Linked DNA regions of Homo sapiens: all the other regions are linked to region 4. Evidence: fine-mapped expression QTL. A gene starts in region 4. Each other region holds a variant in brackets. All regions are shown on one strand. Distances are between the middles of the regions. Region 1 has its middle 3.8 kb from the start of KLKB1. Region 2 overlaps F11-AS1 (F11 antisense RNA 1). Region 3 overlaps KLKB1 (kallikrein B1). Region 4 holds the start of CYP4V2 (cytochrome P450 family 4 subfamily V member 2). Region 5 overlaps F11 (coagulation factor XI). Region 6 overlaps KLKB1 (kallikrein B1).

Region 1 (5,076 bases), 32 kb after region 4:
CTCCTTCATTTATAATTTTATTTGAGTTTTTTTTCTTTTTCTCCTAATTAGGCTAAAGATTTCTTGATTTATCTTTTTAAAAACAATAACAGTGTCATTGACCTTTTCTGTTGTTTTTCTAGTCTCTATTTCATTTATCTCTGCTCTGATCTTTATTATTTTCTTTCTTCCTCTGTCTTTGGGCTTAGTTTTTTTTTTTTACTTTCTTATTGCTTCAGGTGTAAAGTTAGGATATTTCAGATCTTTCCATTTTCTTAAGGTAGGTATTTATCGCTATAAACTTCCTTCTTAGAACTGCTTTTGCTGCATCCCATAAATTTTCAATGCCACAAATTTTGTTTCTCTTTTCATTTTTCTCAAGACATTTTTTGATTTTCCTTTTGATTTCTTCTTTGACTCATTGGTTGTTCAGGAGTATGTTAATTTTCATGTATTTGTGAATTTTCCATTTTTCCTTCTGTTACTGAGTTCTACTTTTATGCCATTATGGTTGGAAAAGATACTTGATATGATTTCAATCCTTAAATTTGTTAAGATGTTTTCCATGGCCTAACATATAACCTATCCTGGAGAGTGTTCTGTGTGCACTTAAAAAGAATGTGCATTCTGCTGCTTTTGAAAGGAATGTTCTGCACATGTCCGTTAGGTCTATTGGTTTATAGCATTTTGAAATCCACAGTTTCCTTGTTGATTTTCTGTCCAGGTGATCTATTCATTGTTGAAAGCATGTTGCTATTTATTTCTCCTTTAGTTATGTTAATATTTGCTTTATAGATTTAGATGCACTGATTTTGGGTACATGTGTATTTACAATTGTTATATCCTCTTAATGAATTCACCCTTTTACCATTATATAATGACCTTCTCTGTCTCTTGTGACAGTATTTGACTTAAACTCTATCTCATCTGTTATAAGGATAGCCACCTCTGCTTTCGTTTGGTTATCATGTGAATGCAATCTCTTTTTCATCCCTTCACTTCCAGCTTATGTCTGTCCTTAAAGCTAAAGTTAGTCTCTTACAGGCAGCATATAGTTAGATCTTGTTTTTTATTCACTCATCCACTCTCTCTTTTGATTGGATAATTTAATACATTTACATCTAAAGTAATTATTGGTAGGTAAAGGCTTACTACTATCATGTTGTTAATTGTTTTCTGATTGTTTTGTAGTTCCTTTGTTGCTTCTTTTTGTCTCACTGTCTTCCTTTGTGACTTAATAACTTTTTTGGAGCAATTTGCTTTGGTTCCTTTCTCTTTATGTTTTGTATATCTACTACAGACTTTTTCTTTGTGGTTATCATGAGGTTTACATAAAATATTTCATAGTTATAACCATCCATTTTAATCTGGTAACAACTTTGACTGCATTTAAAAATACTGTATTTTAACTTCTCCTCCTCCCACATTTTATTATTCATGCCATAGTTTATATCTTTTGTATGTTGTGTATTCATTAGCAAATTGTTGTAGTTATAGTTATTTGTTAATACTTTTGTTTTTTAACTTTTATACTAGAGTTAAAAGTGACTGTTGCACAATAACAGTATTGGAGTATTCTGTATTTGACTGTATAAGAATACCTTTAATAGAGTTTTATTCTTTCATTTGTTTTCATGTTAGTTAGTGTCCTTTTGTTTAAACTTGAGAATTCCCTTTAGCATTTTTTGTAAGGCAGGTTTAATGGTGTTGAAATCCCACAGCTTTTATTTGTCTGGTGATATGATTTGTTCCTGAACTTCCACCCAAATCTCATCTCGAATTGCAATCCCCAGGTGTCAAAGGAGGGACCTGTTGGGAGATGATTGGATCACGAGGTGTTTTCCCCCATTATGTTCTCATGATAGTGAGGGTGTTCTCATGAGATCTGATGGTTTAAAAGTGGTGGTTACCCGTGCGCACATGCTCTCTCTCTCTCCTGCTGCCTTGTGAAGAAGGTACCTGCTTCCCCTTCACCTTCCACCATAATTGTAAGTTTCCTGAGGCCTCCCCAGCCATGAGGAACTGTGAGTCATTTAGACCTCTTTTGTTTATAAATTACCCAGTCTCAGGTGATATCTTTTAGCAGTGTGAAAATAAACAATACAGAGAATTGGTACTGGCAGAGTGAGGTACTGCTATAAAGACAACCTGAAAATGTGAAGGCAACTTTGAAACTGGGTAACAGGCAGAGGTTGGAACAGTTTGGAGGGCTTAGAAGATAGGAAGATGTGGGAAAGTTTGAAACTTCCTAGAGACTTGTTGAATGGTTTTGACCAAAATGCTGATAGT[C/T]GTATTGACAATGAAGTCCAGGCTGAGATGGTCTCAGATGGAGACGAGAAACTATTGGGAACTGGAGCAAAGGCCATTCTTGCTATGCTTTAGCAGAGACTGGCAGCATTTTGCCCCTGCCCTAGAGATCTGTGGAGCTTTGAACTTGAGAGAGATGATTTAGGGTATCTGTCAGAATAAATTTCTAAGCAGAAAAGCATTCAAATATAACCTGGCTTTTTCTGAAAGCATACAGTCAAGTCATATGCGTTCACAAAGAGATGGTATGAAATTGGAACTTATGTTTAAAAGGGAAGCAAAGCATAAAAGTTTGGAAATTTTGCAGCCTGACCATGTGGTAGAAAAGAAAAACCAATTTTCTGAGGAGGAATTCAAGCCGGCTGCAGAAATTTACATAAGTAATCAGGAGCTGAATGTTAATTGCCAAACAATGGGGAAATGTCTCCAGGGCATTTCAGAGGTCTTCAAGGCAGCCCCTCCCATTACAAGCCCAGAGGCCTAGGAGGGAAAAATGGTTTCATGGGCCCTGCTGCTCTGTGCAGCCTTGGGACTTGGTGCCCTGTGCCCCAGCCACTCCAGCTCCAGCTGTGACTAAAAGGGTCCATAGCTCAGGCTGTCGCTTCAAGGGTGCAAGCCCCAAGCCTTGGTGGCTTCCACGTGCTCTTGGGTCTGCGAGTTCACAGAAAACAAGAGCTGAGCTTTGAGAGCCTCTGCCTAGATTTCACAGGATGTGTGGAAACACCTGGCTGTCCAGGCAGAAGCCTGCTGCAGGGACCCAGCCCTCATGGAGAACCTCTATTAGGGCAGTGCAGAGGTGAACTGTGGGGTTGGAGCCCACACACAGAGACCCCACTGGAGCACTGCCCAGTGGAGCTGTGAAAAGAGTTCCCCCATCTTCCAGATGCCAGAATGGTAGATCCACTGACTGGAAAGTTGCAGGCACTCAGTGCCGGCCCATGAAGGCAGCCGTAGGGGCTGTACCCTGCAAAGCCACAGGGACAGAGCTGCCCAAGGCCTTAACAGCCCACACCTTGCATCAGCATGCCCTGGGTGTGAGACAGGGGCTCCAAGGAGATTATTTTGGAGCTTTAAAATTTAATGACTTCCCTGCTAGGTTTTGCATATGCTTGGGACCTGTGGCCCCTTTATTTTGGCCAATTTCTCCCATTTGGAATGGGAACATTTACCCAATTCCTGTACCCACATTGTGTTTTGGAAGTAACTAACTTGTTTTTTATTTTAAAGGCTCATTGAGGGAAGGGACTTGCCTTGTCTCAAATGAGACTTTGGACTCGGACTTTTGGGTTACTGTGGAATGAGTTAAGACTTTGGGGGACTGTTGGAAAGACATCATTGGTTTTGAAATCTGAAAAGGACATGAGATTTGGGAAAGGCCAGGGGAAGAATGATATGGTTTGGCTCTGTGTCCTCATCCAAATCTCGTCTTGAATTGTAATCCCCACATGGGATTACATGGGAGGGGCCTGGTGAGAGGTGATTGGATCATGGAGGTGGTTTCCCCTGTGCTGTGATCTCATGATAGTGAGGGATTTAAAAGTGACAGTTTCCCCTGCACATACACACTCTCTCTCTCGTATCACCTTGTGAAGAAGGTGTCTGCTTCCCCTCTGCCTTCCATCGTGATTATAAGTTTCCTGAGGCCTCCCCAGCCATGGGTAACTGTGAGTCAGTTAAACCTCTTTTGTTTATAAATTACCCAGTCTCAGGTAGTATCTTTACAGCAGTGTGAAACTGGACTAATACATCTGGGAAATTCTTTTTGTCTCCTTCCTTTCTGAAGGACAGCTTTGCCTGATATTATATTCTTGGTTGCCAGGTTTTGTACTTTCAATACTTTGAATATATCATCCCACTCTCTCTTGGCCTACATGATTTCTGCTGAGAAATCCACCAATAATCTTATGAAGCTTCCCTTGTATGTGAAGAATTGCTTTTCTCTTGCTTCTTTGAAAATTCTCTCTTTGTCATGGTGAGGATTTCTTTTTTTTTTTTTTTTTTTTAGATGGAGTCTAGCTCTGTTGTCCAGGCTGGAGTGCAGTGTGCAGTGGCGCAATCTCGGCTCACTGCAAGCTCCGTCTCCTGGGTTCACACCATTTTCCTGTCTCAGCCTCTGGAGTAGCTGAGACTACAGGTGCCCACCACCACGCCTGGCTAAATTTTTTTTGTATTTTTAGTAGAGATGGGGTTTCACTGTGTTAGCCAGGATGGTCTCGATCTCCTGACCTCATGATCCACCCATCTTGGCCTCCCAAAGTGCTGGGATTACAGGCATGAGCCACTGCACCTGGCCGAGGATCTCTTTATATTTAATCTATTTGGAGTTCTTTTGGGCTTCATAAATCTGGATGTTTATTTCATTTATGTCTCCAAATTTTGAGAGTTTTCTATTCTTATTTTTTTAAATAAGTTTCTGCAACTTTCTCTTTCTCTACTTCTTCTGGAACTCTTCTAATGCATATTAATTTTCTTAACAGTGTCCTATAAGTCTTGTCAGCTTTCTGCAATTTTTATCATTCCTTTTATTACTCTGACTGGGTAATTTCAAATGACCTGTATCTGAGCATGCTGATTCTTTCTCCTGCTTGATCTAGTCTGCTGCTGAAGCTGTTTGTGAATTTTTTCAATTCAGTCATTTTGTTCTTTAGCTCCAGAATTTCTGTTTCATTCTTTTTTATGGTTCCTATCTATCTTTTTGTTGAACTTCTAATTTTGCTCATGTATTGTTTTCCTGATTTTGTTTACTGTCTATCTATATTGTTTTGTAGCTTATTGAGCTTTCTTAAGGCA
Region 2 (5,076 bases), 260 kb after region 4:
TCCCCAAATAAGGAGGGAGTCAGTTTTAGGGGGGAACTGTTATCATCCTTGCTTTAAAGTTAAACCAGAAACTAAATTCCTCCCATAGTTATTGTATTAGTCCATTTGCATGCTGCTGATAAAGACATACCCAAGACTGGGCAATTTACAAAAGAAAGAGGTTTAATTGGACTCACAGTTCCACAGGGCTGGGGAGGCCTCACAATCATGGCAGAAGGTAAGGAGGGACAAGTCACATCTTATGTGGATGGCGGCAGGCAAAGAGAGCTTGTGCAGGGAAACTCTCCCTTAAAATACTGTCAGATCTCGTGAGATTTTATTTGCTATCACAAGAACAGCAGGGGAAAGATCTGCCCCCGTGATTCAATCATCTCACATCAGACCCTCCCACAACACGTGGGAATCATGGGAGCTACAAGATGAGATTTGAGTAGGGACACAGAGCTAAACCATATCAGTTATCTTGGCCCATGCCTAGGAATAAGTGAGGACAGCCAGCCTGTGGGGCTAGAAGCAAGATGGAATCAGCCATGCTAGACTTACCTTGCTGTCATAATCCTTGCAAAGGTAGTTTCAATTCTGTCTACATCATTGTAAGTTGTCATTTCACTCAATTTTCCTAAAAATTGTCCTAATTTAAACACTGCCTTTTTTTCCCCCAGGACTCTGACACTACCAGTTCACTATATTGTGGCCTTCTCAATGAAATCCTCAAGCCCTCAAATTCAGCTCTTACCTACAGAGCATCCAACCAGCTTTTTAGTGGTTCATTTTCAACCATGAATGGACAGCCAAGGATCAATCACCAGACACGTGAAAAATCTTCCAGCATGAAAGATAGACCAAAACGAAGAGGAAAAAGATACAATGAGATCACATGAGAAGAAAAGAAGAAGACAGCCAATATCTCTCCAATAGGAAATTTAAAGATAAGAAAAGGGAAGAAAAAATAATCAAAGAAAAAGTTCAAGAAAAAGTTCCCAAAGTGAAGGACCTCATTGTAAAAACGTAAAAATAGAGAGATGCTGCTAAAAACTTCCATAAAGAAAAACAAGTCACATCACAAATCAGGAGGATGGCCACCTTCTCAACAACTTTGGAGAAATTCCTTACATTTATGAAGAAAAATGACTTGCAACCTAGAATTTTATAATTAACCCAACTATTAATCCAATGTGAGAATGGGATTATAACATTCATAGACAGGTAAATACTCAAAAATCTACTGCAGTAGACAGCTTCTAAGATGACCCCAAATGTCCCGACCTCCTAGCATTGATGCCCTTATAGGATCTCCTCCCACTGAGTATGAGTTGGACTTAGTGACTTACGTCTAATGAATGGAGTATTGGAGGAGTTATGGGACACTGCTCTAATGTTAGGCTATAAGAAGACTGTGGCCTCCATCGCGGGCACTCTCTGATGTTCTCTTTTGGTCTCCTTCCTGTGGGGGAGGTCGGCAGCCACGCCATGAGGCAGTTTCTCTGAAGAGACCCACAGAGAAAGGGCTCGATGCTTGCCAACAACCGTGTGAGTATGCTTGGAGGAGTCCTAGTATATATGTTTAACATGACATAGTTTCTCAGTTTATTATAACACTTGTAACCATAATAGGTCTGTTGCCCAACTCACACAGCAAGTCAACATACTGAGATATGGGGCTGCAGCAGAGAAAGGGGTTTCATCATAGGGCTGCTGAATGAGGAGATGAGAGGAAACCCCAAATTCATCTCCCTGGGGAGTAGGAGGGTGGGGTTTTTAAAGAATTTTGGAGTAGGCTGAAGTGTGAAGATCATGGATTGGTCAAAGAGTGCAGGGTGAAATACTGGGACAAGAAGATGAAGAAACAGCATTCCCACGTTGATTTGGCTCCTCTGTGGGGTCTTCAAACTGGTGGCATCAACTATTCTCCTGGAATTCAGAATCTGCTTAAGCACTTCTTAAACACAAGCCTTATGATTCTAAGGTCAGAAATCCTCCCTATAGGAACAGTGCGGACGTGAGTGCTCAGTGCCGGGTGCAACAGCCCTTTCAGTTACAAGGAAGTGGGTCAAAGCGCAGCCTGATTATTGCTTAATTACAACAACATTTCTGTCCAGAATTCTTGTTAACACTGTCAGGACAGCCTTATTGTATTAAGTATAATAATCACATTGAAAATTATTTAGGCTTTCCTCAAAAAGACAAACCACAGATCAGCAGACCATTTGCAAAGCATCTAATTAATAGAGGGATAATGTTCAGGATTTGTAAGAGTTTGAAAAATATATTAAAAAGATAACTGAACAGAAAAATTCTCAAAGAAAACAAATAGGCAAATCACAGAAAAAAAACACAAGTGGCCAGTGAAGAGATACCAAAACTTCACTAATAACCCGGGAAATAAAAAGTTAAACTAAAGCTGACACCATTTTCACCCATCCATTTTGTACACATTATGAAACCTGTTTTCACCAACCTGATGCTAAAAAAGAAAAAAATTATAAAGTCTAACATTATCAAGTATTGTGAAAATTTTGAAAAATGGAAATACTCATCCGTCATTAGTGTGGGTATAAACTTGAAAAACCATCCTGAAAGTATTTTGATTATGTCTATGAAAGCTACCCCCCAAAAGTACAAGTTCTACAAAAGAGCAATTTTACTTGTTACGTGCATTATATTAATACCTTACACATCTGCAGTGAGACATGTAAAATAATATTTTAAGGACAAATAAAGATTAAAAGTGGGCCTGGCACAGTGGTTCACGCCTGTAATCCCAGCACTTTGGGAGGC[C/T]GAGGCGGGCAGATCATGAGGTCAGCAGTTCGAGACCAGCCTGGCCAACATGGTGAAACTCTGTCTCTACTAAAAATACAAAAATTAGCCAGGCGTGGTGGTGGGTGCCTGTAATTCCAGCTACTTGGGAGGCTGAGGCAGGAGAATTGCTTGAACCTGGCAGGCGGAGGTTGCAGTGAGCTGAGACCACGCCATTGCACTCCAGCCTGGGTGACAGAGCAAGATTCCATCTCAAAAAAAATAAAATAAAATAAAATAAAATAAAAAATAAAAATAAAAATAAAAAAGATTAAAAATGATAGCCGAATTCTTCCGTTTGAAAATAAGGTAAGAAACTTCTCCCTCTCTCTTTTCTTAGAACATTTACTTTAGAAGATTTGTAATTGTAAGTTCCTTTTCTGTCTCTAAATCTTTTTCCAAGCCCAATAAGCCTCTTGCCAGCTTTACGACCCAGGAATGGCTTTCTCAAGCACCTGGAAATCACCTCTTTGTAAACATCGAGTGAGACAGTGCCTCTGTGGCCCAGTTTCTGGGGGAGAGTAAGAGCCTGTCTTTGGGGGATGCCTTGCTCCTAGTTGCAAAACTACCTCTTGTCATAAAAATAAATGTTTATTTTTCCCTCATTTAAAAGTGATTACCAGGTGAATTTAGGATGAACTGTGTGTAATAAATGGTGCTATCACATTCTCTCACTTGAGGACTAGTTATTATATACCTTGAGAGCATGTATGTAATGAATTGTATCTGCTTGGTTATACGAAGGGGTGAGATTTCTTTCTGTCTTTGCAATCTCTTTGTGGGTTGTCTGTGATATATAGCACATTCTGATTTAATGCCTATTCAATTTTTAAAAACTGTTTTCTTTCTCTGCTACCTTTGTGAAGAGGTTTTCTAGGTTGGGAGAAGATTTTGGTTTAAATTAAATTTCCCCAGCAATGTTCATTATAGCATTGTTTGTAATAGTGAAAAATATAAGTACTTTAAATATCCATTTGTAGAAGAATGAATTATCATAAAATAATACAATGCACTAATATACAGCAGTTAAATAAATAAATTAGCACACTATGTGTCAAAATGAGTAATCTCAAAAACATAATATTCAATGAAAACATAGTTGCAGATAATAGAAGTATGATTTTGTTTTCATAAAATTGAAGATACTAAATATATTATGTATGGTTATATGTAAAAATAGTAAATATATAAAAATAACAATAGGGCCAGCATGATGGCTCATGTCTGTAATCCCAGTGCTTTAGGACACTAAGGTGGGAGGATCACTTGAGTCCAGGAGTTCGAGACCAGCCTGAGAAATGCACGGAGACCTTGTCCCTAAAAAAAAAAAAAAAAAAAAAAATAGCTGATTGTGTGTGCCTGATGTCTCAGCTACTCAGGAAGCTGAGGTGGGAAGATCCCAGGAGTTCAAGACTGCAGTGAGCTGTGATTGCCCCACTGAACTCTAGCTGGAGCAACAGAGTGACACTCCATCTCTAAAAAAAAAAAAATAAAAATAAAAACAAATAACAATAGGAAGCATATCCACCAGTGTGCAATTACCATTACCTGTGGTGCAGAAGGGAAGGTAATCATTTTGGGAATAAGAAAAAGGAGAGTTTGACTGTATCTGTAATATTTTATTTATATGAAGCAACATATAGCTAGATTGCAACATATAGGTAGTAATCTGGCTTTTAGATACAGAAAATAATATGACTTAGATTGGTGGGTGTTCATCATATTATTCTCTCTACGTTTTAAAGTTTTCATGACAATAATATTCTCATAAACAAAAACAGAGTTCCTGGATCAAAGAAAAACCATTTTAGAAGACGTTTTCTTCCAAAAGTTTGACCAGTGAGTGGAAAGTATTTCAAACATATTCTCTACACACAAAATCTGCAGACCTAACTCTCTTTACCGAGGAGGAAAGCTATCTCTCATTCTCAGTTTGGCAGGGCAATCTCGTGATGGGAAACATTTCCTGTGGGTTTTCAGGGGCCAGTGAAGAAGTAGAACAAAGTACTTGCTACCTGGGTTACCTGTTAAGACCACAGATCCCGCCAGAGCATATCCTGGTCCCTGTGACGCCATGGAACCCAGTAGTCAGCCTGGGGCACCATTCCTGTTACCGGAAGGGGGTCCCGAGCCAGACTCCAAGAGAGGGTTCTTAGACCTTGCCCAGGAAAGAATTGGGAGTGAGTCCATAGAGGAAAGTGAATGTAAGTTTGTTAGGAAAGTAAAGGAATAAAGAGACCAAGGTGGGCAGATCATCGGGTCAGGAGTTCGAGACCAGCC
Region 3 (5,076 bases), 50 kb after region 4:
GATACTGTTATAGTTATAGGAAACTAGTACAGTGATACTGTTAGAGTTATAGGTAGAGTGATATAGGACAGTGATACTGTTATAGTTATAGAAAACTAGTACAGTGATACTGTTATAGTTATAGGACAGTGATATAGGACAGTGATATTGTTATAGTTATAGGAAACTAGTACAGTGATACTGTTAGAGTTATAGGTACAGTGATATAGGACAGTGATATTGTTATAGTTATAGGAAACTAGTACAGTGATACTGTTAGAGTTATAGGTACAGTGATATTGTTATAGTTATAGGAAACTAGTACAGTGATACTGTTATAGGTACAGTGATATAGGACAGTGATACTGTTATAGGAAACTAGTACAGTGATACTGTTAGAGTTATAGGTACAGTGACATAGGACAGTGATACTGTTATAGTTATAGGAAACTAGTACAGTGATACTGTTAGAGTTATAGGTACAGTGATATAGGACAGTGATACTGTTATAGTTATAGGAAACTAGTACAGTGATACTGTTATAGTTATAGGACAGTGATATTGTTATAGTTATAGGAAACTAGTACAGTGATACTGTTAGAGTTATAGGTACAGTGATATAGGACAGTGATATTGTTATAGTTATAGGAAACTAGTACAGTGATACTGTTATAGTTATAGGACAGTGATATAGGACAGTGATATTGTTATAGTTATAGGAAACTAGTACGGTGATACTGTTATAGTTATAGGTACAGTGATATTGTTATAGTTATAGGAAACTAGTACAGTGATACTGTTAGAGTTATAGGTACAGTGATATAGGACAGTGATATTGTTATAGTTATAGGAAACTAGTACAGTGATACTGTTATAGTTGTAGGACAGTGATATTGTTATAGTTATAGGAAACTAGTACAGTGATACTGTTAGAGTTATAGGTACAGTGATATAGGACAGTGATACTGTTATAGTTATAGGACAGTGATATTCTTATAGTTACCGTGGTATAGTTATAGTTAAAGGTACAGTGATATTGTTATAGTTATAGGACAGTGATATTGTTATAGTTATAGGACAGTGATGTAGTTACAGTGATATAGGTACAGTGATATTGTTATAGTTATAGGACAGTGATATAGTTATAGGACAGTGATATTGTTACAGTTATAGGTACAGTGACGTTGTAATAGTTATAGGACAGTGATATTGTTATAGTTATAGGTACAGTGATGTTGTAGCAAAACTGTAAGGTCATTCCTTGGTTGTGTCCCTATCTAGTGAAATGACTCTACCAGGGGTAGGGAAATAAAACTCTGTCGTTTCACACATAAAGGTAATTTCAATGGAATTATCCAGAAAATTGCCATGACATTCCACCTCATTTAGCATGTCAGGATGTTAATGACAAGATGTTACTAAAAGCAAATCCCTTACGGCCAGTTTTCCGCAGTACTGGGTGCTGGCTCTGTGCCTGGCCCTGTATTGGGTGCTGGGCTAGGATTTCCCTGTGGAAGATTGGGAAGGTTGGTTACAAGGTGGCTATTTTCCTGTCTCCTCTTTGCGACAGCACACCTTCTCCATGGTGTGTGCCAGGTTCACGTGTACTGGTGATTTAATTTTAACGTTCATATTATTTTTTTCTGGGAGAGTTTTTGAAGGCTGCCAGGAGGCAGGACTCGATGCAAACATGCTCCATTCTGTACCCAGCCCTGTTGCTGGAAGGATTTGCTGCACTTACCCAGGGAACAGGCAAGCTCGTGCTGTGGCTCTGGGCTGTCACAGCTGCTGTCCACACCTGGGAGAGCACCCTGGATGGCTCATCTGTGTACTTGCTTTCTTGTTAAATTGCAGTGAGTTCACATGTGATTTAATCGGATCAAATGGCCTTTACAGACTGATAAAAATATGGCTGTTTCAGGTGGTGTTTTGAGCTGCTAAGGGCGTGGCTTTTCACTGAGTACGTGGTCCCCGTTCCTCAGGGAACACCCAGTAGCCACATGCCTCCTAAACCTAGAGTAGGGCTGTCTCCTGGCCTAACTGCCCAAATGAGATTCATAAGTTAGGGATGATCTGTAGTTATCACTACAGATTTGTCCTTGGTTTCACCAAGGATTTTCCTAATTTTACAAACAAAACCCCTAAGGCTCCTGGAAGGAGGGTAGAAGTGAAGGTGCTCCGGGGGCAACACAGCTGATGAGCTGAACCAGAACTCGACCCTTGGGTCACACACATTTCACAGTGCTCACTCCACCTTTTGTTTTTTTAATGGATTTAATGGTGTTTTAAAGCCTCCTGCCTCTCAACACATATGAATTCATTATATTTACAGATTTCCTTCTCTTGTGGTCCATCTTCCTGCATAGATCTTGAGAGATGTCAGGCTAACCACGTTTCCTCAGTTAATTTAACAAAACCATTTGCAACTCTGACATGGAAAATTCCTACCATGTGACTTATTAATTTATCAATTGAGATGGTACACATATTTTCAAGCCAAAAGGAGGAAAACATAAATTGGAAAAAAAAGGTTTTTTTATTTTTATCACCTCTGGGGAAGAAAGTCTGATAAACGAAGCTGGTTGATAAAATTGCAATTAGGGGAAGCAACATCATGGTTTCTGTTCGGAGGCTAACCAGATGGCATACTTGAAATAGAGAATGTCCTAGAAATCAACTGGTTGCTTGGCCAAAATATCTATAAATAGTGCCCAACATATTAGATAGGAAAAGCAAAGTAAAAACAATTTTAACAGGTTAGGACATTGGGCTGAAGTATTGCATATATTTAATGTCATGTGCGTCCGTGTGAAGAGACCACTAAACAGGCTTTGTGTGAGCAAGAAAGCTTTTTAATCACCTGGGTGCAGGCAGGCTGAGTCCGAAAAGAGAGTCAGTGAAGGGAGATGGGGTGGGGACGTTTTATAGGATTTGGGTAGGTAGTGGAAAATTACAGTCAAAGGGGGTTGTTCTCTGGCGGGCAGCGGTGGGGGGTCACAAGGTGCTCAGTGGGGGAGCTTCTGAGCCAGGAGAAGGAATTTCACAAGGTAACGTCATCAGTTAAGGCAGGAACCGGCCATTTTCACTTCTTTTGTC[T/A]TTCTTCAGTTACTTCAGGTCATCTAGATGTATACGTGCAGGCCTGGGCCCAGAGGCCTGACATTCCTGTCTTCTTATATTAATAAGAAAAAGAAAACGAAATAGTGGTAAAGTGTTGGGGTGGCGAAAGTTTTTGGGGGTGGTATGGAGAGATAATGGGCGATGTTTCTCAGGGCTGCTTCGAGCGGGATTAGGGGCGGCGTGGGAACCTACAGTGGGAGAGATGAAGCTGAAGGAATATTTTATGGTAAGGGGTGATATTGTGGGGTTGTTAGAAGCAGCATTTGTCATATAGAATGATTGGTGATGGCCTGGATATGGTTTTGTGTGAAATGAGAAACTAAATGGAAGACACAAGGTCTGAATAAGAGAAGGAGAAAAACAGGTGTTAAAGGACTAAGAATTGGGAGGACCCAGGACATCTAATTAGAGAGTGCCTAAGGGGGTTCAGTGTAATTACTTGCTTGGTTGGTGAGTTTTTGGGCTCTATCCTTGACAGAGTCCTCCTTTTTAAGTTGGAGGCTGAGCTTGGTGAGGTGTGTTTTTAAAAGACCATTAGTCTGTTCTACCTTTCCTGAAGATTGAGGATGGTGAGGGGTATGAAGGTTTTACTGAATACCAAGAGCCTGAGAAACTGCTTGGGTGATTTGACTAATAAAGGCCGGTCTGTTATCGGATTGTATAGAGATGGAAAGGCCAAACTGAGGAATTATGTCTGACAGAAGGGAAGAAATGACCACGGTGGCCTTCTCAGACCCTGTGGGAAAGGCCTCTACCCATCCAGTGAAAGTGTCTACCCAGACCAAGAGGTATTTTAGTTTCCTGACTCCGGGTATGTGAGTAAAGTCAATCTGCCAGTCCTGGGCGGGGGCAAATCCCCGAGCTTGATGTGTAGGGAAGGGAGGGGGCCTGAGCAATCCCTGAGGAGGAGTGGAGTAGCAGATGGAACACTGAGCAGTTATTTTTTGAGGATAGATTTTTACGACGGAAAGGAAAAGTGAGGTTTTAAGAGGTGGGTTAGTGGCTTGTAACTTACATGGAAGAGTTTATGAAATGATGACAGAATAGAATGGGCCTGTGAGGCTGGAGGAGATATTTTCCTTGGTCCAAGAATTATTTGCCTTGTGTGGGAAGAGATTGATAGGTGGAAGTTTCAATGGGGGAGTAGATGGGAGTGACAGATGAGGAAGAAAAAAACTGGCTGTGAGGGATAGAAGTTGGAATGCTCGCTGCTTTTTTAGCTACCTTATCAGCATAGGCATTGTCCTGAGCAGTGGGATCTGATGCCTTTTGGTGGCCCTTGCAGTGAATGGCTTCAGCTTCCTTTGGAAGTAAAGTGGCCTTGAGAGGAGTTTTTATTAAAGAGGCATTAAGATGGAGAACCCTTGTGTAGTGAGGAAACCTCCTTCAGCCCATATAACCGCATGGTGGTGCAGAATATGGAAGGCATATTTAGAGTCAGTATAAATATTGACACGTAGTCCCTTTGCAAGAGTGAGGGCCTGAGTTAAGGCAATGAGTTCAGCTTGCTGAGAGGTAGTGGAGCGGGGCAGAGCAGTAGCCTCAGTGATAGATGTGGAAGATACTACAGCATAGCCTGCCTTTGCTGGTGAGTGGTGATTAGGCCTGGTGGAACTGCCATCAATAAACCAAGTGTGATCAGGGTAAGGAACAGGAAAGAAGGAAATATGGGGAAATGGAGTGGATGTCAGGTGGATCAGAGAGATACAGTCATGGGGGTGGGGGCCAGCCTAAAACAGTAAGGTCAAGTTGTTTGAACAGAAAGGCTACAGGGCGTGGTCCTGGCTCTTGTGTAAGAATTTTGACTGCGCAGCCCTGCACTTCGGCTGTGTGTAATGAAAAGGGTTGGGATGAGTTAGGGAGAGCTAGTGTGGGAGCAGTTTCTAGGGCTGTTTTTAAGGAATGGCAAGAGGAGTGGCTAAAGGATTTAGGATCTTTGGGGTCAGCTAGCTTTGCTTTTGTGAGTTTATATAATGGTTT
Region 4 (5,075 bases):
GATTGCCTTCACACTGGCCTTGCAATCATCTGCTACACTGAGCACCATTACATTTCATGGTGGACATTCTAAGGTGTGACACTGTGTACTCTGCTGTCAGGAGGCTTTCCGGGGAGAAGGGTCTTGCCAAGGATTTCTTGCACTCCCAGCCACCTGACTGGTTTAGTCTGAAATTTCAGTATTCCAGGGTAGTATGAGAAAGGCCCTATCTGGTAACAAAGAAAGCATAAGAAAGATGGCTAAGGGAACAAAGGGACAAGGCTTTTATTTTGTTCTTTACCCACAGATTGCCTTCAAAATAAAGATAAAGCGTCTAAGCCTGGCAGTGCAGGTCTCTTTAAGCTGGCTCCATACCCACCCACCTCATCCTGCACCTGTCACTGCGTGGGACCCTGTGCTCCAGGCAGGGGCACCTCACTGCCCCCTGAGCTCATTTTACCCCTCCTGGCTCTGCAGCATTTCTGACCATTTCTGCCCAGGCCGAGACTCACTGCTGCCCAGAGCAATCTCCCTTCTCTCCTTCTGGAGGGGAGGGGTTGTATGTTACCCGCCTGGTTTTATCCACAGAGGTTAGCAGAGACTGATACAGACAAACCCTTTTTCTTTCTAATTTTAGATTCAAGAGCACATGTGCAGGTTTGTTAAATTTGCCTGACGCTGAGGTTTGAGTTTCTATTGATCCCCTCACCTGAATAGGGAACACAGTACCCAATACACAGTTTTTCAACCATTACTCCCCTTCCTTCCTCCCCCTATTTTAGAATCCCCAGTATGTAGACAAATTGTTTACTTTTATAGCTGTAATTAACCTTATTATAGCTCAGCCTCAACCCTTTAGAGAGGAGGAAACTAAAGCCCATGAGACTTGCTTAAAGATACTAAGTGAACATATTTATTTTTTAAAGTGTTAAAGTGATTAAACAATGTAGACGTGAATGAAATAAAAAGCGTAAGTTCCCCATCTTCATTCCCACTCCATAGAGCTGATCAGTATTTTTACTTGCAGACATTAGTGGAGCCGTAGAGAAAGAAACCTTTTCTCCAAAAGAAGGCATTACTTTACACACTCCGTTCTGCAACTTGTTTTGTTCACTTGCTATTTCACGTCAGCCCATGCAGATGACTTAAAACAAATTCAAATGGAGAAAAGCCTTAGGCATGTTTTTCTCTGCACTAAAGAGGCCCTGCAGGTGGCTGTGGCCAACTTATGCAGTGGCTTCGAGTGAACGAACGTAATTAGTAATTAAGCAAAGCGGGCATCCAGGACATTCAGTTTCATCTTCCTGGCACTTTAGTGTTTAGGAAGGGCCTGGCCTCTCGGGGAGCGACACTCCTCGCCCGGCCACTTTGTAAGAAGCATCGAGCGTGGAAAAGGGGCTGGGGTCAGCACTGGGGCCCTCTGCCGGGAAGAGAGACTGGCGGCCAGCACACGCGTCTCCCCAGGCTGAAATGGGGCACCCTCTCGCGGCCCTTCCCTCCCTTCCCGGGCTGGGTGGCAGGTCTTGGCTCTTCTGCGAGTACCCCGCGGCTGCGGTCTCCCGGCACCCGCTGAGCAGCCTCGCCCGCCTTCCTCTCCCACCCGCCCCTGCGTGCTCTCCGGGGCTCCGGCTTCCTCGGTCTGGTGCCTGGTGCGTATTTTGGAAAATACCTGGCTCATAACCACCTCATTGAGCTCCCAGTGTCCCAGTGGGCCAGCGGACACACACGGGTAGCTGACTTCCCTAACGTGTCCCCAAAGCCTCCCTGGATTACAGCGCCCGCTGCTCCATGTGACCCCGCGGGAGCCAGGACGCGCCCCGCCTCCCGGGGCTGCAAGTTGCGCAGGGAGCGAGCGATGCGCAGCAGAGCTGGGCTCCGAGCCGGATGCGCCTTCCTTTCCTCTCCAGAGCAGGCTGCCCGCCCGCGGAATCCCGCACGTAGAGCAACCTCGCAGCACCCTCAGAACAGCCCCGCTGGGGCGCGCCGGGCTGCCGCGGTGACCTTTCCGACGCCCCTGACCCCGCATCCGGAGGCGGCCGGAAGTGTCGCCGGCCTCCTCCCGGCGCAGCCTCCGGGCCTCCAGTGCAATCACTACGCCCTGGGGCCCGGAAACCGTTTTCCGGTCTTTCGCTTTCGGCTGGGGCGTGGAGGCCGCGGTGCTGCGTAGGCCGGGCCGGGCGCAGGAACAGCCCCGTGGCGCCCTCTCTGGCCGCCGCCCGGGCGGGAAACGTCGTTCCGGGGACCGGGCGACCCCGCAGCGGGGAGCGCGCCAGGTCCGCGCGGGGAAGTGGGCGGTGTGCGGCCGGCACCGCCTCGCACCACGCCCCCGCGGGCCCGCACTTTCCCGGAGTGCACCCCGCGGCCGCCAGCCGGGGCGATGGCGGGGCTCTGGCTGGGGCTCGTGTGGCAGAAGCTGCTGCTGTGGGGCGCGGCGAGTGCCCTTTCCCTGGCCGGCGCCAGTCTGGTCCTGAGCCTGCTGCAGAGGGTGGCGAGCTACGCGCGGAAATGGCAGCAGATGCGGCCCATCCCCACGGTGGCCCGCGCCTACCCACTGGTGGGCCACGCGCTGCTGATGAAGCCGGACGGGCGAGGTAAGGGCCGGCGCTCCTCCTGGAGCGCAACGGGGTCCGCAGCCCCGTTCCCACCCTCCGATCAGCCAGGAACCCGCTGCTTGTGGCGCTGGCCGCAGGAGAGAGGAGCCTGTCACCCTGTGGAGAATGCACTCCCAGTTCTAGTCGTTGCCCCTTGGCACCCGCCGACACTGCTAGTGCCCCATCCCAAAGTGAGCATTTTCTTTGTGTGTAGCACAGGATGCGGTATTTCCAAACCCCTGCCCTCGGTCTTTTCCCACCTCACCGCTGCTCAGCTCTCAAAGCCCTGCCGTTTCCTCCTGCCTTGGCTTGGGAAGCCTTAGGAACAGAAGCTCCCTGGGAGCACAGAGCGGTTTTAAACTGGCCAACACCTTAACGCCCAGAGCCGCCCTCCTCTCGCTGCCACTTTGGAAAATAAGAGACTAGAGATTCACTGGACGCTTCCTCCCGGCATCACAAGACTTGACTGCTGCTTCAGTTCCCGCTTGACCTTCATACTTTAGCCCTTTAAAGGATGTTACATAATAACAATTAAGAGACGGCAGGGCCTTCAGGCAGACTTCTTTGGAGGGTGTCAAACGCCTTGTTTATTAAAGAGTGAATTTTTTAATTAAAATCATGTTTTAAAACAGAGATGGACATTTTATTGATGGAAAAAAATCACGTTAAGTTAGAAAGCTCTCAAAAGTACCTGGTATTTACAACTCCCTGTCAGGGAGGGCGAACTCGATCTCAGAGTTTTATTTTCATCAGGGATTACGTTGAGGTACCCAGAAATGAGAAGATTTGCCCAAAATGGCATATTTTAAAATTGGCCCAGACCAGAACCCAGTTTCCTCTGGGATTATTTGTTAGTAATCGTTTTACAGGCTGAGCATTAACTAACTCCAAAGCTTGAAGGACTTTTTCTCATTTTCACTTGTTTTCTCTAATAAAAATAATGCTGTAATTTCAACTTCACAAGATGAGGCCTCATGGAAGAGTGTTTACCAAAATATTAAAAATACTTTGACAGAAAAAAATCAAGCGAACTCTTTGCCAACCAAATATCATCATGACTGATGTAACAAGTAATCCAACACAGATATGAAAATCACACTGGTAAAAATCATCTCAGTTAATTCTAAAAGCAGAGCTAACCACCCCTTTTGTCCTAAGGCTTTATGGTATTAAAAAATAAACTGTACAAAAATATAGATTTTCCCCTATCCCCTACCCCTGGAAAGTAATATACTGAAGTCTCATCATACTGTTTTGGGGATTCCAGTAATTAAAATCTCTAGTGAATAAAGACCTGTTTCAAAACAACCTGTGAGCTGACTGGACTATTTAAAGTAATTCTCCTTGTAGTCACTTTCAGAGTGAAGACAATGACGAATACTGTCTTTTACAAAGGGACTTTTTATTCCACCAACAAATTCTGGATTTTGGCATCAGGAAAACCACTGTTCAATTTCCAACACTATATCCAAGTTGTTTGAGAAATTATTTAAAACTCTTTAACTTAGAGGGTTTTCTTTCTCCTTTACTTGTTAAAGTGACTATATTACAGAGTCACTTTAAGGATTAAATTTATTGCATGCAAAGTTTCTAGATCACTGTCTAGAAGTCAGTTAGAGTAAGTTCTTTAGTTGTCAATCAAGCATTTAGTAAGGCCCTGCTTTGTGCCCAGTGTTGACCTCAACAAAGTTGGGGATATCAGAATATTCTAAGATACAGTCGTTGTTCCCAAGAATCTTGTCTTTCACATACAAGAGGTGTTGCGTTTCATTTTGCGGCTAATGTCCAAACGCTGGCCTCAGCCATTTCACCTTGAAGATTGCAGTTGGCTTCCAACTGGCCTCTAAACTCTAATCTAGCATTTTCCAGTCCATTGTGACAAAGTCTGCCTTCCCCAGCTACTCCCAGCTGTTGGACCTGCTGCCTTAGAACCACAGATTGAGACCTCCCTGTCCCCTCTGTCAGACCAGACCAGGGCAGGCAGTATATTTGCATGACGCAGGATGATTGACACTGGTGATTTCACCCAGCTCCCTTCATAGCAATTTTGACAACTGCTTCATCTGAGAGACATTTGGAAGCAGCATAGTTTATGGTGAAGTTCTGGAGTCTCGCTCGGTACAAGCCAGTTTCCACCATTTACTAGCTCTGTGATACTGGGCAGTCGTTAGAAAGAATGCCCGTTCTGGGACATCAAAACCTAATAATTATTATTCTCTAATAGCTAACATGCATTATGTGTGTTTATTTGCTGTGGCAAATACTATGTTGAAAAAAACTTTAGACTTACAGAAAAGTTGCAGTATTACAGGCAGTTCACACATGCTCTCTACCTGGCTTCCTCTAACAGTAACATATTACAGAATTAGTATATTCATCAAAATGAGAAAACAAACCTTTGTCCAATACTGGTCACAACTTTCTCATCTTGATTGAATTTCAAATTTGATGTTTTTCCCCAGAATTTTTTCAGCAGATCATTGAGTACACAGAGGAATACCGCCA
Region 5 (5,076 bases), 90 kb after region 4:
TCTACTTAGGAAAAGTCACTCTTTTCCAGGAAGATGCTTCCAGGGTGTGGAGTAAACGACGGACTTCACCCATCTCCTTATAAACCTATTGCAACCCTGGATAGGAGGTTTCTAGGTAGCATGAAGACTCTTGAATCTTTAAGATAGGCTGGGAGTGTTGAAAGGAAGGAAATGAAAAGGGAAGATACTAGGAAGACTGACAATAGAGCAAGCTCAGAAAATTTTTATGGAGGTGATTTAGTTAGAAAATTTGTCTGCAACCTAAGGGCCATGGAGTGTGACTCCATGGTTTATGGGTGTAACTCCGTGGTTTATGAAGAGTACTTTCAAAATAGGAAAATCTTCACAACTAAGTGCTAGCATGAGCTGACTTTACTTTCTCTAGGTGCTGTAAAAATGTTTTTATGTGTTTGATATGATATATTTCTACTTCCCTTTTGTTTTTGTTAGAAATCTTTGTCTCCTTAAAACATCTGAGAGTGGATTGCCCAGTACACGCATTAAAAAGAGCAAAGCTCTTTCTGGTTTCAGTCTACAAAGCTGCAGGCACAGCATCCCAGGTAAACTGAGAGTTCTGCATTCTGGCTGAGAGTGACCAGCCCCGAGGAGGCTGATACATGCTGAGGGAGGGTCTCACTCTGACATGTGGTCTGCTGTCTAGTGTTCTGCCATTCTTCATTTTACCATGACACTGATTTCTTGGGAGAAGAACTGGATATTGTTGCTGCAAAAAGTCACGAGGCCTGCCAGAAACTGTGCACCAATGCCGTCCGCTGCCAGTTTTTTACCTATACCCCAGCCCAAGCATCCTGCAACGAAGGGAAGTAAGCCATATGAAGGGTTATGCAGACACCCTTGTCCCGTCTGCCTGTGAGGTGCATTATGTTTATACCGTTTTGTTTCCAACTGCAGGGGCAAGTGTTACTTAAAGCTTTCTTCAAACGGATCTCCAACTAAAATACTTCACGGGAGAGGAGGCATCTCTGGATACACATTAAGGTTGTGTAAAATGGATAATGGTGAGTATAATGTCACTTGAAAAAATATAGCTGAAGGAATTATTCCATGCTTCATACATCACAATCAAGACTGTCAGTTATAGCCACAGAAGGGAGAACATTCAGGAAATAACAAATTTTGCAATTTTCTATTATTTTCACTCCTGTCACTCAAGCTGACCATGTTTTAAAGGTAAATATTGAGGCTTGACTAAACTGTACATTGCCTAGTATTAACTAAATATATGCTTTAATTTGACACATTTATACACCTGGCATTTCTGTTTTCTTTCTTTCTTTTTTTTTTTTTTTTTTTTGAGACACAGTCTCACTCTGTTGCCCAGGCTGGAGTGCAGTGATGTGGTCAGTGTTCACTGCAGCCTCTGGCTTGAACTCCTGGACTCGAACAATCCTCCCACCTTAGCTCCCTGAGTAGCTGGGGCTACAGGCGTGCACCACAACACTCGGCTAATTTGTTGTAGAGATGGGATCTTGCCATGTTGCCCAGGCTGGTCTTGAACTCCTGGGCTCAAGCAATCCTCCCGCTTTGGCCTCCCAAAGTTCTGGGATTACAGGCTTCAGCCACTGCACCCAGCCACAACTGGCATTTCCTAATGAGACCCAGACTCTGCCAACACTCCTGTTATCAAGGCCAGTAATCTTTCCTATTATCCTTTGTAAGGGAATTATCGATCAGCACTTTGGTTAGTCAAATTACTAATTTTCTTCCAAAAATTGTGTATCTATTCAAGAAATACTGGAGCACCTCCTTTTTAGGGTCTTTATTCAGATTCCATGCAGGGTTCTGGAGACTTAGGGATTGGCAAAGGTTAAGGTAAAACTTTACTAGTAACAATGAGTGTGGTAGGATGGAAATAAGTGTTTAGATTACACGAGACCTGTAATAACATAAAAGTTACAATAAAAATCCAACCAGCAGTGTTTCCATCCCAGTGGCCAATTTCTGAGCATAGTCACGAGAGATGCTTTGTAGGCAAACAGAATTGTTCTAAGGGACAAAATCCCCAACAGGAAAGAACACACCACAAACACTCCTGCTTAAATTACCATAGTAACTTA[G/A]GATGGCTTTACTATATATTGATTTACATAAAGCTGCATGTTCTTATACTGTTTATTGCCAAATGTCCAATATTACAATACACTATAAGGTGCAACTGAGATTTAATGAATAAAATGGAAGTAACAATCCTGCCTCGTGATAGTTTTAGAAGCACAAAAACATTCTGTGTCAGATTATCTGCTGTACCGAGAAGGCGAATCAATCCTTAATTTCTGAGAACTTGTTTTGTAGAACATAAAGACGTTATATTGCCTCCAACACTGGTATCCTAACTAACAGACTATGCCTTCCTAGAGCTTAGAGGCGCTCCGATGAAAATCTCTGGATGGCTCAAGACTTCTTAAAAAGCAAGTCAATTACGTCGTATCTCATACATTCTGTTTTCCTCACAATAAATTTCCCTAAGACAAGAAGGAGCATTCGGCACCATTCTGTTGTCTTTCTTCTACTTCTAAGCGTTAGAAGGGACACTTAGCAAATGTTGCTGTTAAGTAATGTTGACATGGTTTAATAAAATGGGAATGAGCACGTATACCTCAATACATTGCAGACTGCATTTTCCCCCTTCCTTCTTCATTATGGTTTTCTCTGTTGGATTTATAGACTCTGGCCTGTAGAAGTTACAGAATATGCCAGGTATAGATTGATAGCTACAGGAGAAAATGTAAGATAAAGGAAAATAAAGTCTTACGTCTTTTCAGTGCAACTTTGGAGGGAGTGAATTAGATAACTAGGTTTTTACTGCGCTGTATTTGATGAAATAACCCCCTAATGTGAAAGGGAATAGCTGCGTGAGATATTTATGGTGCCTTGTCTGTCACTGGTCTACAATGTAACTTAACTTTCTGAAGATAGATAGCAGCACCATTAAAATAAACATTTCTTACCACAAAATATGATTCTAAACACATATTTTCAGCATTTCGTTTAAACTGAGAAACAGCATAGGATGAACCTCAAGGCCTCTCACCTGGACCTTGAGTTATTTCTAAAATATCTTAGTTACTATTTACCTATTAATTTTCCTAAAATTTACCTTTATGACGCTTCCCACCTTGCAGAAATTCCAGAATAGATGGCCCTCCAAAATGAATGTTCACCCTTCCGGCTCTAAAATGAGAGCCTCTGTTCAGGCTTCCGAAGTCACATCGTGCTCGTTCTCACCTCAGTTGCTGTTAGCTGCTGTTTCCTTCCGAACTCCTTCTCTCATCCTCTCCTCCTATTTGAAATCTGCCCCAGAATTATACACTCATTTTCCTACCAAGGAAAAAAAGGCCTAGAAAGGTTGTTTTACACCCACAAAACTAGTGAATGGACCTTCTAGGACCCGGCTTCTCATCAGTGATTCTTCTGTTAACTTAGACTCCTCCCTTAGCTCAGGACGCGGAGCCTTCTGAGCACCTGAGCCTGGTTATTCTAAATGTGATCTGGGCACAGCACATTGACATCACCTGGGAGCTTGTTAGAAAGAATTTCAGGACCCACACAGATGTTACTGAGTCAGAATCTGCATTTTGAAAGCTACACAGGCAACCCACAGGCACATAAATTTTGAGTCGCATAGGTGTGTGCGTGTGTGTGCGCATGTATGTGTGCGTGTGTTTGTGTGCACGTGTGTGTGTGTGTGTCTAGAATACTGCTGTCTACGAACACCCTATTCCCATCCATCTGTGTTCCATGGCTCCAACCGGGAGGGTGGGTTCTTGTGTCGGGCATCCAGTAAGTAGAAATAGAGGGCACTGTCCTGTCTAGGCAGCCCCAAGAGAAAAGAAACAGAGGGATGAGCCTGAGTCAAAGTCCCTGAAAAGTACCAAGGACCCCAGAGAATCCCAAACTGTCAACAAGGCCAAAGGTCAGAGGAAGTTCATAGCAGATCAGTCTTACTTTGGACGTGGGTGGAGCAGGAGTGACTGGGATCATGGTCAGCAGAGTCACTGGGACAGGGCAGGAACTGGACAATGGCTGCAGCCTGCGGGCAAGGTGCTTGCCTTTTCTTTCTAAGAGCAGTTCTCAAACGCCAGCAGGGCTGGTTCAAACACAGATGGCTGAGCTTCCAGGCTGGAGTTTCTCATTCACTGGATCTGAGGTTGGGCTGAAGAATGTGCATTTCTAACACGTTCCCAGGTGACGCTGTTGGTCTGGAGACTGCACTTGACAACCACTGGTTTAAAAACACCATTCACGTTATCATTTGAAGGAGGGTAAGACAGCCTTGTAGTACCACACAAGGAGGGCTACATTCTTAGGGGTGTGTAATTACAAGATGACTTAGTCAATTCCATTTTTCATGTGCATGTTTTGCTTTGGCAGCTTGATTATAAAGTCTCTGTAACTCAGGGTCATGATAAACTATTGACTTGAGGAAAGGTTTTCTTCTTGTTCCTGAAGGAGCATAATTACTGATGGAAAGGAAGATGTAGGAAGCTGCTCATCACAATGCTTCTGTTGCAGAGTGTACCACCAAAATCAAGCCCAGGATCGTTGGAGGAACTGCGTCTGTTCGTGGTGAGTGGCCGTGGCAGGTGACCCTGCACACAACCTCACCCACTCAGAGACACCTGTGTGGAGGCTCCATCATTGGAAACCAGTGGATATTAACAGCCGCTCACTGTTTCTATGGGTCAGTACCACGGCTGTTTTTATTAGTTCATCTTCTTCACACATTTATAAAAAATATTACTAGCATGTTAGGAAATAAATACTTTAACCAATTAGATTGTCTTATTTGCAAAATTAATTAATTGCTTCAGTGGTAAAAAACGCAAAAAGGAAGAGCTCATGGTCTCCCAGCATCAGAACAGGTGCAGGTACAAGGCTGCTTGACTGCCTGCTATTCCGCTTCCCATTTAACCGCATTCACATCCCCAAGGGCCTTCATGTTATTCCCTGCAAGAGCATACCTCCCTCTGTGCCTCGCTCTGTGCACTGTGCCCGGAACTAAACTCACAGAGGATTTACCATTGTCTGAATCAAATTTCTAATATGTGTGTGTGTGTG
Region 6 (5,076 bases), 44 kb after region 4:
TTTAGTAGAGACGGGGTTTCACCACATTGGCCAGGCTGGCCTTGAACTCCTGACCTCGTGATCCACCTGCCTCTACCTCCTAATGTGCTGGGATTACAGGCATGAGCCACCGCACCCAGCGGTAATTACAATTTTTATTAGGTCAGAGAGATGCTTATTAATCACGAGCCACAGTTTCATCTTAATGATTTTTCCTTTTGATTAATATCCAGAGTAAGCTTTTCTTTGTTGTTCCCATTTCCATGTTCATAACTCTTTACTCATCTTCACTCTATGTGAGTTTACCAACTAGAAATTGGATAGTCATTCTCTGATCCCACATGTTAAACTTGTAGAGAAAACTCAGATTGTATGTGAGGATCATCATATTAAAAGTGGAGGAAGGTTCTAGAATTCTTATAAATAATGAAATTAACATGAAGGTGGACATCTAAGACAGAGGGAAGTCTTCCATTAAGTGCAGACTACAAGGAGTTAATAAGCAAGATGAACACGATATACAAATCCAGCTCTTATCACTAAGTTAACTTTTTAAGTAAATGAAAGTATTTGCAAAAATAATTACCAATTGAGAACATAGTTGCCTGAAAGTTTAAGAACACAGGAAAAATCATTAACTCTTTAATATGGTTGATTTCCTGTACTTAAAAAATGTGAGTGTAAAGAAAACGCAGTGATGGAGTTAGATATTATGGGGTGTTATAAAATTAGCTCTAAGAGTGTTCTTTCCAGCAAGTATTGGGGAAGCTATATTATTTTCCTTATTCCTGGTTTTATTTGTTAGTGTGTAGAAAATGCTAGACATTTCCTCAATGTATGTTTATTATTCTACTTCCTAAGTAAAGCTACTTTTAAAATAGGTTTGGTTGCTTCTTGAAAGATAGTGTTACAGGAACCCTGCCAAAAGTACATCGAACAGGTGCAGTTTCTGGACATTCCTTGAAGCAATGTGGTCATCAAATAAGTGGTAAGTTGTGAATTTCTTAGCTACATTTGAGTTAATATTGGATCTCGCTTAGAACAGCTTTTGCTCAAAGTTTGTACTGCTACAGCTTTTTGGAAGGCATCACTCATAAAGATAGGAGATGGGGCAGTATTCTGGACACAAAAGAGGGACCCATATTCATCTGGACACTTCTATTGTCTTTATAAATCAACACATACTTAATGAGCCTCTATTATTTATGAGGTTAGCGCTCAAGTGTAAGATTTGCAGAAAATGAATCCAAATAATTGTGTCTCGTTTCCAGATAAGAATTTTTAAGAAAACACAAGGGAACATCTCTCTCAAGTTCACTTGAGGGTAATTTTTACATCAGTGATTCTCAACCAGCAGTGATTTTGTCTCTTCCACTGGGGACATTTGACAATGTCTGGAGACATTTTTGGTGGCTACAACTAGGGAGGATGCTATTAGCATTTACTAAGTAGAGGCCAGAATGTTTGAATGCTGACCAACATTCTACAAGGCACAGGGCAGTCGTCCACAGCAAATAATTTTCTGGCCCAAAACGTCAACAGTGCTGACATCAAGAAACTCTGTGATATACCACTAGGCCCAAATTGAAGAACTGAGTTCTGCAAATCTTGCTAAGAATAATACTTCCTAAAGGAAACTTGAGGACTAGGATGCTAGAGAACTTTGATTCTGACATCTGAAGCTACTGATGTCTTGGGAAACAGTTTCCAATGCTATCCTAATAAATTTAAGACAAATGAACTATTTCTCAAACATGACTGGGACTGATAAGAAAGTGAAAAGTGCTGAAAAGATTCAACTGATGGGTTGTCAGAATCTTAAAATAACTGCTGTTATTCTATGTATGACTATATATCATTACTATTTTATTTTCATTATGCACAATTAATTTTGTAGGTTCAAATTTCAGATGTTTTTAAATTTGTCATCCTTTCCTCCCTCATTGATATCACCTCTTCAATACGTACACACTTTGAGCCTGCTGTTTGCATTTTAACCAGTTATCAAAGGATGGCAATGCCTTCATTATAAATGTGGGCCTGACTTAGCCAGTATAATAGGTGTAGTCTACGTGAGG[T/A]GGAGTACATTTCCTATTTTAAAAGATCAATTTTTATGTTAATCCAATTTGGTATAAATTATTCGAGTAAGTGCTATTTCTGATTGTTGTATCTTGTAGCAAAATTTAAAGAAAAAGTAATTTGTGCCTTTCTCAATATTCCTGTTATTGTTCATGTATTCTAAAACTCACTGTTACTCACTTAGCTTGCTTTTAATGTTTTTTAAAGTGAAAAATTGTTCCCAAGTACATAAAATCTCTACACTCAAGAACAATTCTAGTCAAAAGCATTTAGAGCTTCCGTATGAACACTTAAAGAGTTTTTATTTGTAAGAGTCGCATCCCAACTCTTAGCCTGTTCTTTTCTCACATGCAGAAAAATAGGAAAGAGACTTCGTTTCCACAGTCTGCAAATTCCTGTGTTTAAGAACCACAGTGAATAATCCACCTCCCTGCCCAACTCATCGTACTGTCATATAGTTTTCCTGACAGTTTGTGTATTTTCTGTCTTTCCCACCCTTAAATTTAGTTTTATGACTTCAACCATACTTCTTAGGAGTGGAAAGGTATCTGTAGTAGATTATGGTTTATTCCACATAATCTTGGGGAATAAAACTTTAAAAAAGTATACAGTTTATACTTCTGGTTACATTACTTCCTTAACCAAAAGTCTAACCAAGAAATTTGAATCTTTAAAAAAAAAAGAGGCCGGGCGCGGTGGCTCACGCCTGTAATCCCAGCACTTTGGGAGGCCGAGACGGGCGGATCACGAGGTCAGGAGATCGAGACCATCCTGGCTGACACGGTGAAACCCCGTCTCTACTAAAAATACAAAAATTAGCCGGGCGTGGTGGCGCGCGCCTGTAGTCCCAGCTACTCGGGAGGCTGAGGCAGGAGAATGGCGTGAACCCGGGAGGCGGAGCTTGCAGTGAGTCGAGATCGCGCCACTGCGCTCCAGCCTGGGCGACAGAGCGAGACTCCGTCTCAAAAAAAAAAAAAAAAAAAAGAGCCTAATTTTGCTTCACTGTCTGTGAAAAGAATTATCTGTATCTTTTGCATGTAAGACAAATCTCAATGAAAAGGGTGCTTAAATAGAAGTTAACACTATTTTAAAGCAAGAATGGAAGTGGTTTCATCATGCGTAAACAACAACTCTCCACATTTTGTAATGATTGATCTGGATGCAATTTGTCATCAGACAGGAGAAGTCGAAAGCAAAGAAATAACACTGGGAGATAGAGAAGCTCTTTCATTCAATGCGAAAGGTCAAAGGCACATCAGTTTCTTTAATAATGCAAACCTCAGCACACATTATCAGTGTCCTCATTATTATTGCCTTGTTTATTTCCCACTGCTCATTGATAATTTCAACGTGAAATTTACCTGTATTGCTGCATGCATCTTGCAGTTTAAGAAGTGAAGTAACCCAATTTCAAAGCTAGTGCTTTAGGGAAAATATTGGATTGTATTTACTTCAAGCAGAGTTCGATAATTTATGTACATAATAAAAATTTTAAATCCCTTAGTTAATATAGCAGTTGCCAAAACTGGGCTATTATCATTCTAAACTACCAACCCAAATGGTAGTGGGTATCTAATCTACCTCTAGAAAGAAAATGGACTGTATTTGCTCTATGTATTTTTCTTGTACAGCTTGCCATCGAGACATTTATAAAGGAGTTGATATGAGAGGAGTCAATTTTAATGTGTCTAAGGTTAGCAGTGTTGAAGAATGCCAAAAAAGGTGCACCAGTAACATTCGCTGCCAGTTTTTTTCATATGCCACGCAAACATTTCACAAGGCAGAGTACCGGTGAGTACAATTCAAGGTGTGTGTTCTTTGTATTGGTGCCTCCAGGATTTCACTGTATTCTTCTTAACCTCTTTTGTTCCCAAACTAAAAACCAAACAGGGCTTTTATTCTAACCACTTTCCTCATTTACTTACTCTATTTTATTTTTTTATCTTTTATTTATTTATTTATTTATTGAGATGGAGTCGCGCTCTGTCGCCCAGGCTAGAGTGCAGTGGCGTAATCTCGACTCACTACAACCTCCGCTTCCCGGGTTCAAGCGATTCTCCTGCCTCAGCCTCCCGAGTAGCTGGGATTACAGGCGTCCGCCACCATGCCTGGCTAATTTTTGTATTTTTAGTAGAGTCGGGGTTTTACTATGTTGGTCAGGCTGGTCTCGAACTCCTGATCTTGTGATCCACCCACCTCAGCCTCCCAAAGCGCTGGGATTACAGGCATGAGCCACTGCGCCTCGCCCTTCATTTTTTAATTAAATAATTCATTTAATTTCATTTGTTTCTCTACTCTTTTCCCCTGGCATGTAATTGTACCGCATCTTCAAAGCCTGACATCCTCTTCCCCTACTTCTCCAAAGCTGATTCTTGCAGGTCTTTCCTCAAATACCGTCCCCTCCAAAAGCCCATTTCTGAGCATTCTCTTTTAAGTCACACTCAGCTCTGTTTATTTCATTCATAGAGCTAATCACAATTTGATATTAACTTGTGATTTTTTTCCTTATTTTTAAATCTTATTTTTATTTGCATAGATGTATGGGGTACAAGTGTAATTTTGTTACTTTGATGTATTTTACAGTGGTAAAGTCTGGGCTTTTGGTATATCCATCACTGGAGTCATGTACATTGTACCCACTAAGCTATTTTTCAACGCCCGCCCCCTTCCCACCTCTCTGTCACCTTCCCAGTCTCTACTGTCTATCGCTCCATGCTCTACTCAATTTTGGTGTCATTTTTTCCTGAAGCAAAATTTTGGTGTCATTTTTTCTGAAGTCATTTTCTGAAGTCTGTGTCATTTTTCGCTTTCCTGAAGCGAATTTTGGTGTCATTTTTCCTGAAGTTCCGTTTGCCCCACACATAGGCCTTGCTTATAGAATGAGGGTTTAGTGTCACGGAGTCTCCTGCCTCATTCTCACCCTAACTTTTCCTTTACCCCTTTGCGAGGGGAAGGATGTCCATTAGGTTAATAATGCAGACCCCTAACCCACTCATTATCAGGGTCATTGTTTTTCCA

Evidence for each region.
Region 1: its variant is fine-mapped to the expression of CYP4V2 in pancreas (GTEx, PIP 0.92).
Region 2: its variant is fine-mapped to the expression of CYP4V2 in hippocampus (GTEx, PIP 0.98).
Region 3: its variant is fine-mapped to the expression of CYP4V2 in fibroblasts (GTEx, PIP 0.94).
Region 5: its variant is fine-mapped to the expression of CYP4V2 in adrenal gland (GTEx, PIP 0.97).
Region 6: its variant is fine-mapped to the expression of CYP4V2 in whole blood (TOPMed, PIP above 0.99).

What each region holds. Positions count from the first base shown.
Region 1 is chr4:186,221,155-186,226,230 of GRCh38, forward strand. It overlaps a transcript of KLKB1 not described here. Among named protein-coding and RNA genes, the nearest start is that of KLKB1, 3.8 kb to the right of the region's middle. RefSeq lists an enhancer at 4,860-5,076. The variant C/T (reference allele first, on the strand shown) is at 2,269.
Region 2 is chr4:186,452,758-186,457,833 of GRCh38, forward strand. The region is part of intron 1 of F11-AS1 (F11 antisense RNA 1); the gene reads right to left. Among named protein-coding and RNA genes, the nearest start is that of F11-AS1, 46 kb to the right of the region's middle. The variant C/T (reference allele first, on the strand shown) is at 2,779.
Region 3 is chr4:186,239,185-186,244,260 of GRCh38, forward strand. The region is part of intron 6 of KLKB1 (kallikrein B1); the gene reads left to right. It overlaps LOC124900873 (a long non-coding RNA gene), which reads left to right. Exons shown (of 2, transcript XR_007058497.1): 2 at 1-1,310. Among named protein-coding and RNA genes, the nearest start is that of KLKB1, 14 kb to the left of the region's middle. RefSeq lists enhancers at 1,921-2,526, 4,115-4,643, 4,644-5,076. The variant T/A (reference allele first, on the strand shown) is at 3,076.
Region 4 is chr4:186,189,468-186,194,542 of GRCh38, forward strand. CYP4V2 (cytochrome P450 family 4 subfamily V member 2) reads left to right here and starts at 2,100. Exons shown (of 11, transcript NM_207352.4): 1 at 2,100-2,570; 2 at 5,033-5,075. The coding sequence starts at 2,357. FLJ38576 (a long non-coding RNA gene) reads right to left here and starts at 2,023. Exons shown (of 1, transcript NR_046264.1): 1 at 1-2,023. RefSeq lists a silencer at 1,897-2,426.
Region 5 is chr4:186,279,562-186,284,637 of GRCh38, forward strand. It overlaps F11 (coagulation factor XI), which reads left to right. Exons shown (of 15, transcript NM_000128.4): 8 at 451-560; 9 at 662-824; 10 at 913-1,019; 11 at 4,531-4,699. Among named protein-coding and RNA genes, the nearest start is that of F11, 16 kb to the left of the region's middle. The variant G/A (reference allele first, on the strand shown) is at 2,079.
Region 6 is chr4:186,233,092-186,238,167 of GRCh38, forward strand. It overlaps KLKB1 (kallikrein B1), which reads left to right. Exons shown (of 15, transcript NM_000892.5): 4 at 861-967; 5 at 3,690-3,849. Among named protein-coding and RNA genes, the nearest start is that of KLKB1, 8.1 kb to the left of the region's middle. The variant T/A (reference allele first, on the strand shown) is at 2,058.